Regions from separate parts of the Homo sapiens genome. Here region 1 is linked to region 2. A link means that fine-mapping ties the variant in region 2 to the expression of a gene that starts in the linked region. Tissue or cell type: NK cells. Region 2 holds a variant in brackets; the other region holds the start of a gene. All regions are shown on one strand. Distances are between the middles of the regions.

Region 1 (2,657 bases), 26 kb before region 2:
TCTGGAAAGAATGAAAGGCAGCAAATGGAGAAAACATTACTGAGAGCACGAGAGCAGGCTAAGGCCGTGGTGGTAAGGGACTCGGGCCTGTGCAAGAGTACCAGGAAGACACCTGTGGGAGGAGGTGGCCGGGTGAAGGAAGGGGCAGTGGGAGGAGCTTCCATGCCTAGGGACCAGTACCACCCCAGGCTGGAAGCCCAGAGTGGAGTCCTAGGACATCAGATCCTAAAGGGCTTGAATACCGTTTAAGGCTTTTCTTCCGGGAGCAAGTAGGAGCCAAAGAAGGGAAGTTGCGGGACTTGTTTTCGTGGGGCCAGTTGCCTGGTGGTTACGCGCCTCTCCTCTGAAGTCAGGCATCCTGTTCCAGAGTATCCTGGTTGCGCTTCAACTTGCGGAGTGACCTGGGGCAAGTGACTTTAACCTCAGCTTCCTCATCTGTGGAGTGGGGAGGGCGCAGCGCTGGTCGCCCTGAACAGGAAGTGAGACAACCTCGGGGTGCACACGCGCAGGCCCGAGCCGCAGGGTCCACGCCCGAGGCGAGGCGGCAGCGGCGCCTGCAGGGCGAGGGGACGAATCGCGATCTTTTTCAGAGTAACCCGCGTACAATAAAAAGTCCCCATGAAAAGGACAAACTAGCCAGGCGTGAGGGGCGGTGGCTCACGCCTGTAATCCCAGCACTTTAGGAGGCCGAGGCGGGTGGATCACCTAAGGTCAGGAGTTCTAGACCAGCCTGGCCAAGGTGGCGAAACCCCCGTCTCTACTACAAATACGAAAATTAGCCGGACGTGTTGGCGCGCGCCTGTAATTCCAGCTACTCGGGAGGCTGAGGCTGGAGAATCGCTTGAACCCGGAGGGCAGAGATTGGAGTGAGCTGAGATCGCGCCATGGCACTCCAGCCTGGGCAACAAGAGTGAAACTCCGTCTCAAAAACAAACAAAAAAGGACCAACTAAAAAAAGAATATAAATACAATAAATAACAGGACTTACGGGGGCAGGCTGACCCCTAAAGTAAGGGGTCGGGCTGGAAAGGATCTCAAGGGGTCAGAGTTTGAGCCGCCGAGGCGCGCGAGCCCCAGCACTCCTAGGCAGCTGCATCCGCCCCGGAAGATCCCCTGGGGCCCTGCGCTGGCTTTCCACAGCGCCATGTTGGACGGTCCTCCCACTTCCCACCTTCCCAGTCCTCCCGCTACTCTGACCGTTCTACCTGTGATTCTCGCTGGTGGAGTCAACCTGGAATGGATTCCCGCCGAACCACGCCTCCCTTTCCTGGTTCGCCCGCAGTTTCGGCCTATCAGGTTGAGTCGGGTAAACCAGGACGGGCCAAGCGGCACTCTCATTGGATATCACTGGTGGGGGCGGGAAGAAGGCGGAGCACGTGCCCGGGCGGAAGTAGCCGTCGCATCGCGGATTACGAAACGCCGCGGAGCTGAGGCAGTTCCGCTGGCTAGTGTGTACGCGGCGAGCTTCTCCCGGCGCCGCCCGCTCGGCTCCCATAGCGCCCGCGACAGCGGTCCGGACGCCGCCCGAACATGGACTCCGCCGGCCAAGGTACCTGCCGGGCCCGGCCCCTTCGCCGCAGATGGGCCCAGGCTGCCCGTTGTTCTCCGTCTCCCGGGGTCGCGTCTGCGACTCTCTGTCCTCTCGGTCTCGGTTCACCCACCCCGCGGCCCCTCTTCAGCTCCCGGGGCCACTGACCTCGAAGCTTATGATGGTCGTGGTGTGTTTTTTGCCCGCGGCCCAGACCGCTTCCTGGGCTCTCTCCAGCCGCCCTCCTGGTCTCCCCTGGGACCGTTCCGAGGTGTGGTTCCCTGGCGCCCGCCGTTGCTCCCGTAGTTTGGGTTCTGTCGCTCCCAGCAGGTCTCGCTTATGCCGCCCACCCCGTGCCCTGCTCTTGCTTGCTCTGCCACCCCCCGGTCCCTGCGCGGGGCCCTCGGGTTCACGCTGTCTGGCCCTGGACCCAGTCCGAGGTGTTGAGGGCGGCTCCCGAGCAGAGAAGGGGTCTTCGCGTTCAGCAGAGCTCCCCTTGGGCAGCAACTCTGCTCGGAGCTCAGCCTGCTTAGGGGTTGCCTCATGGAGAGGGGGTGGAGTGAGTCAGGGGCACACCCAGCATACCAGGCCTGTTTCCAGAACAGTCTCCCCAGAGCAGTATGAGATGGCCACTGAGGGGCGTGGAGCGAGCCCAGGAGATTAAAATCTTGAGAAGATGATAAAAGTCTGCCTTGCATTTTGGGGCTCTAGAGAGGGATGCTAAATTTCTTTCTTTCTTTCTTTCTTTCTTTATTTTTTTGAGACGGAGTCTTGCTCTGACGCCAGGCTGGAGTGCAGTGGCGCGATCTCAGCTCATTGCAACCTCGACCTCCCGGGTTCAAGCGATTCTGCTGCCTCAGCCTCCTGAGTAGCTGGGACTACAGGCACGCGCCACCAGGCCCAGCTAATTTTTGTATTTTTAGTAGAGGCAGGGTTTCACCATGTTGCCCAGGATGGTCTCGATCTCTTGACCTTGTGATCCGCCCGCCTCAGCCTCCCAAAGTGCTGGGATTACAGGCGTGAGCCACTGTGCCCGGCTACATATTAAGCTTTATAATTCCTAGGTGCTGCATTATTCTGGAGGGTGTTTTTTGTTTGTTTGTTTTTGTTTTTTTGAGATGGAGTCTCA
Region 2 (2,836 bases):
TGTCTTCATTTGGCATCGTTCTCTGGAGACCTGTTGGGGCTGGTGCCCGTCCGTGATTTGCTCCCTGTCCCTGCTGAGCAGTGTTCGTGTTACATAAGCTTTTGTAGAGCATTGAGCATGGGCCTGGGATCTGCCTTGTGTTGTGTGCTCTGTCTCAGGTTTTTCTGTCTTCATCTTTTCTCTCCTGTAGTCTAAGGTTGTGGGTGACAGAGAGAACGGCAGTGACAACCTCCCTTCCTCAGCGGGGAGTGGTGACAAGCCCCTGTCGGATCCCGCACCTTTCTAAGCCTGTGGTTGCTTCACCCGCTGCAGAGCACACGCAACCCAGCCTCAGCATCACAGCCGCAGCTCTGTTCAGCGGAGCAGCCAGCCAGGGCGGATGAGCAGAGCCGGCCCTGAGGACAGTCCTGCCCATCCACGCGGAGATGTGGCTGCCGCGTTTGCATGAATTTGAAGAACACAGGCTTGTACACAGATGTTTTACACTCACGTTTGTAGATGAAACAGATCACTGTGCTGTCCTTCCTAGGGGTGCAGGAAGTGGACAGGGCGGAGGGTTTGAAAGAATATTGAGCCAAAGCCCAGGCTCCCTTTGGGAATCATGTTAGCCCATCAGAATGTTGAAGGATTGAAGAGTTCTAAGCATAAAATAAGTGGCATTTTCTGACTTCTTCCTCCTCCTCCTTCCCTGACTCACAGAAGGAATGCAATCACCCAGCAAGTCCTACCTGTTACGCAATTTTTTATCTCAAAATGCCGAACGAGAAAACTGTCCATTTTCTGAGACCCCCAGAAAGGAAACTGACCCTCAGCAGCTGCCTGATTGTTACGCGAATCTAGCTTTAACGGAAGCAAATTCATTATTTTTTAAATGCAGTGGACTTTTCAAAAAGTTTAAATTAGGCAAAGCAGCTTTAGCCTCATAGAATATTATTTCTTTGGACTCAAGCTGAAATACAAGCCTTACATTGCCTTATGCTTTATTTCTTTCTAATTTTTATATGTATATAGATGAGGGTTCCTTAATGGTTGTGAGCATTGTGTGGAATTTTACACCTGGCCTGCGTGGCAGCCTCTTCCAGTTGAGGTGTTTTATGTCACGCACACTCCATCCCAGTGTACAAAACCTGCTTCTCTTCTCAACCGTGGCAGCTCCCGCTGGCTCCTATGCCCTGCCCTAAAGGGCTCTTGAGCCTCTGGGAATGGGAGGGGCCAAGAGAAGGAAAACCCTGTCTTTAGCACCCTTTAAAAGAACTGTGCCCCCCTTCTCAGTGCTGCCTTTGCATGGGCCTGGCCCGGCTCACATTCGTCAGTGACTCCAACCCTCCTGCTTGCTGTACTTGGGATGAAACGACCCCACAGGTCAGGTGGAGGGTGGGGCGTGGGCATCAGCCAGGATTGCCGTTACAGTCTTTTTCTCAGGAGCTACAAAGATCTCTTCCTGTTACTAAAT[A/G]GTCGCACCCCAGCAGCCTCTCTCGCACACCGGGGCCCTGCATGTCAGATGGCGTGGTCTGCAGGGGGAGCTCTGTGCCTTAGTGGCTCTTGGCAGGACACTGAGGGCCTGCCTGTGGTGTGCCCGGCTCTGCCACTCCCGGGAGGGGAAGGGCTGCTCAGCTCAAGGTGTCCTGTTCGGTAGAGCAAGTGTCCTCTGACAGCCGTGTCCCCGGACAGTTCAGACACCCTTGGGGATGGCACTCCACACACGACAGAGATGCAGGGGCCAGGGAAGCCCAGCGCTCGGTGCCCTTCGTCCAGGGTTAAAATCGGCCTGTGGGGTGTGGTGAGAAGGCAGGTTGTGCGGGTGTTGACCGATGTATCTTTTCCTTAAAGTTATTATAATAATGGGTAATTTGTCAATAAAGCATTCCTTTGGGGGAAAGTCCGCCTCGGCTTGTGTGATGTATCGTTCGGGACCATGATAAGAGTGGTAAATGAACTGGCACACGGTACCTGCCCTAATGAGTCCGCACCCTTGGGAGAGGCAGGCAGGGGACAGTGCTAAAGACAAAGGGCAGGTCCTCAATGCTGGGACAAGGGGAGCCAGCTGTGAGGGGAGAATGGTATATGGCCAACCTGTGAGGTCAGACCCAGCGTCTTGGGAAGAGGAGTTGAAACTGAGCCCCAGGAGGCGGAGGAGGAGCTCACCAGGCTCCAGGTTGGGCCGGGAGCTCCAGAGGCTTCGCCAGCTGCCCCTGCAAGCACTGAGCTGCTGCTGAGCACACCTGTAGTCCCCGCCATTCTGGAGGGTGAGGCAGATCACCTGAGCCCAGGAGTTCAGGACCAGCCTGGGCAGCATACCGGGATTCCATCTCAACTAAAAACAGTAGGCTGGGTGTGGTGGCTCATGTCTGTAAGCTCAGGACTTTGGAAGGCCAAGATGGGAGGATCACTTGAGCCTGGGAGTTTGACACCAGCTTGAGCATCGTAGCCAGGCCCTGACTCTACAAAAAAGTGAAATAATTAGCCGAGTGTGGTGGTTCACACCTGTAATCCCAGCTGCTCAGGAGGCTGAGGTAGGAGAATCATTTGAACCCGGGAGGTGGAGGTTGCAGTTAGCCGAGATCACGCCATTGCACTCCGGCCTGGGCGATAAAGCGAGACTCTGTCTCAAAAAAAAAAAAAAAAAAGAAAAAGAAAAAGGAAAAGACCCTTGAGGGGGAACCTCCACTCTGCCCCTGGTCTGGCGCTTTGCATGTATCCATTCCTAGTCTTTGGAGTTCCCACTGGAAAACTAGTGGGAGCACCAGTCTTCCTTTGGAGGTCAGAGGTAGCTGGGCTCACCCCAGATGTAAGAGCAGGGAAAGTTAGGTGACCTCGAATTGTATGGTACATAAGC

Alleles and levels. Positions count from the first base shown, and alleles are read on the strand shown. Sizes are in standard deviations (SD) of each study's normalised expression.
In carriers of allele A in region 2, the expression in NK cells of the gene that starts at base 1,435 in region 1 tends to be higher than with G alone (moderate effect, 0.49 SD a copy in Gilchrist 2021).

The links. PIP is the estimated chance that this variant, and not a neighbour inherited with it, causes the effect.
Region 1: TPD52L2 starts here. The variant in region 2 is fine-mapped to the expression of TPD52L2 in NK cells (Gilchrist 2021, PIP 0.95). The same link has a PIP of 0.9 or more in CD4 T cells, monocytes, monocytes after LPS, monocytes after interferon gamma, monocytes after triphosphate RNA and neutrophils.

Annotation. Positions count from the first base shown.
Region 1 is chr20:63,863,836-63,866,492 of GRCh38, forward strand. TPD52L2 (TPD52 like 2) reads left to right here and starts at 1,435. Exons shown (of 7, transcript NM_003288.4): 1 at 1,435-1,549. The coding sequence starts at 1,531. ABHD16B-AS1 (ABHD16B antisense RNA 1) reads right to left here and starts at 1,238. Exons shown (of 2, transcript NR_165314.1): 1 at 989-1,238; 2 at 1-435. RefSeq lists enhancers at 163-392, 486-1,685, 725-1,445, 2,167-2,657 and a silencer at 853-902.
Region 2 is chr20:63,889,660-63,892,495 of GRCh38, forward strand. TPD52L2 (TPD52 like 2) reads left to right here. Exons shown (of 7, transcript NM_003288.4): 7 at 191-1,879. The coding sequence ends at 286. Among named protein-coding and RNA genes, the nearest start is that of DNAJC5, 4.0 kb to the right of the region's middle. The variant A/G (reference allele first, on the strand shown) is at 1,454.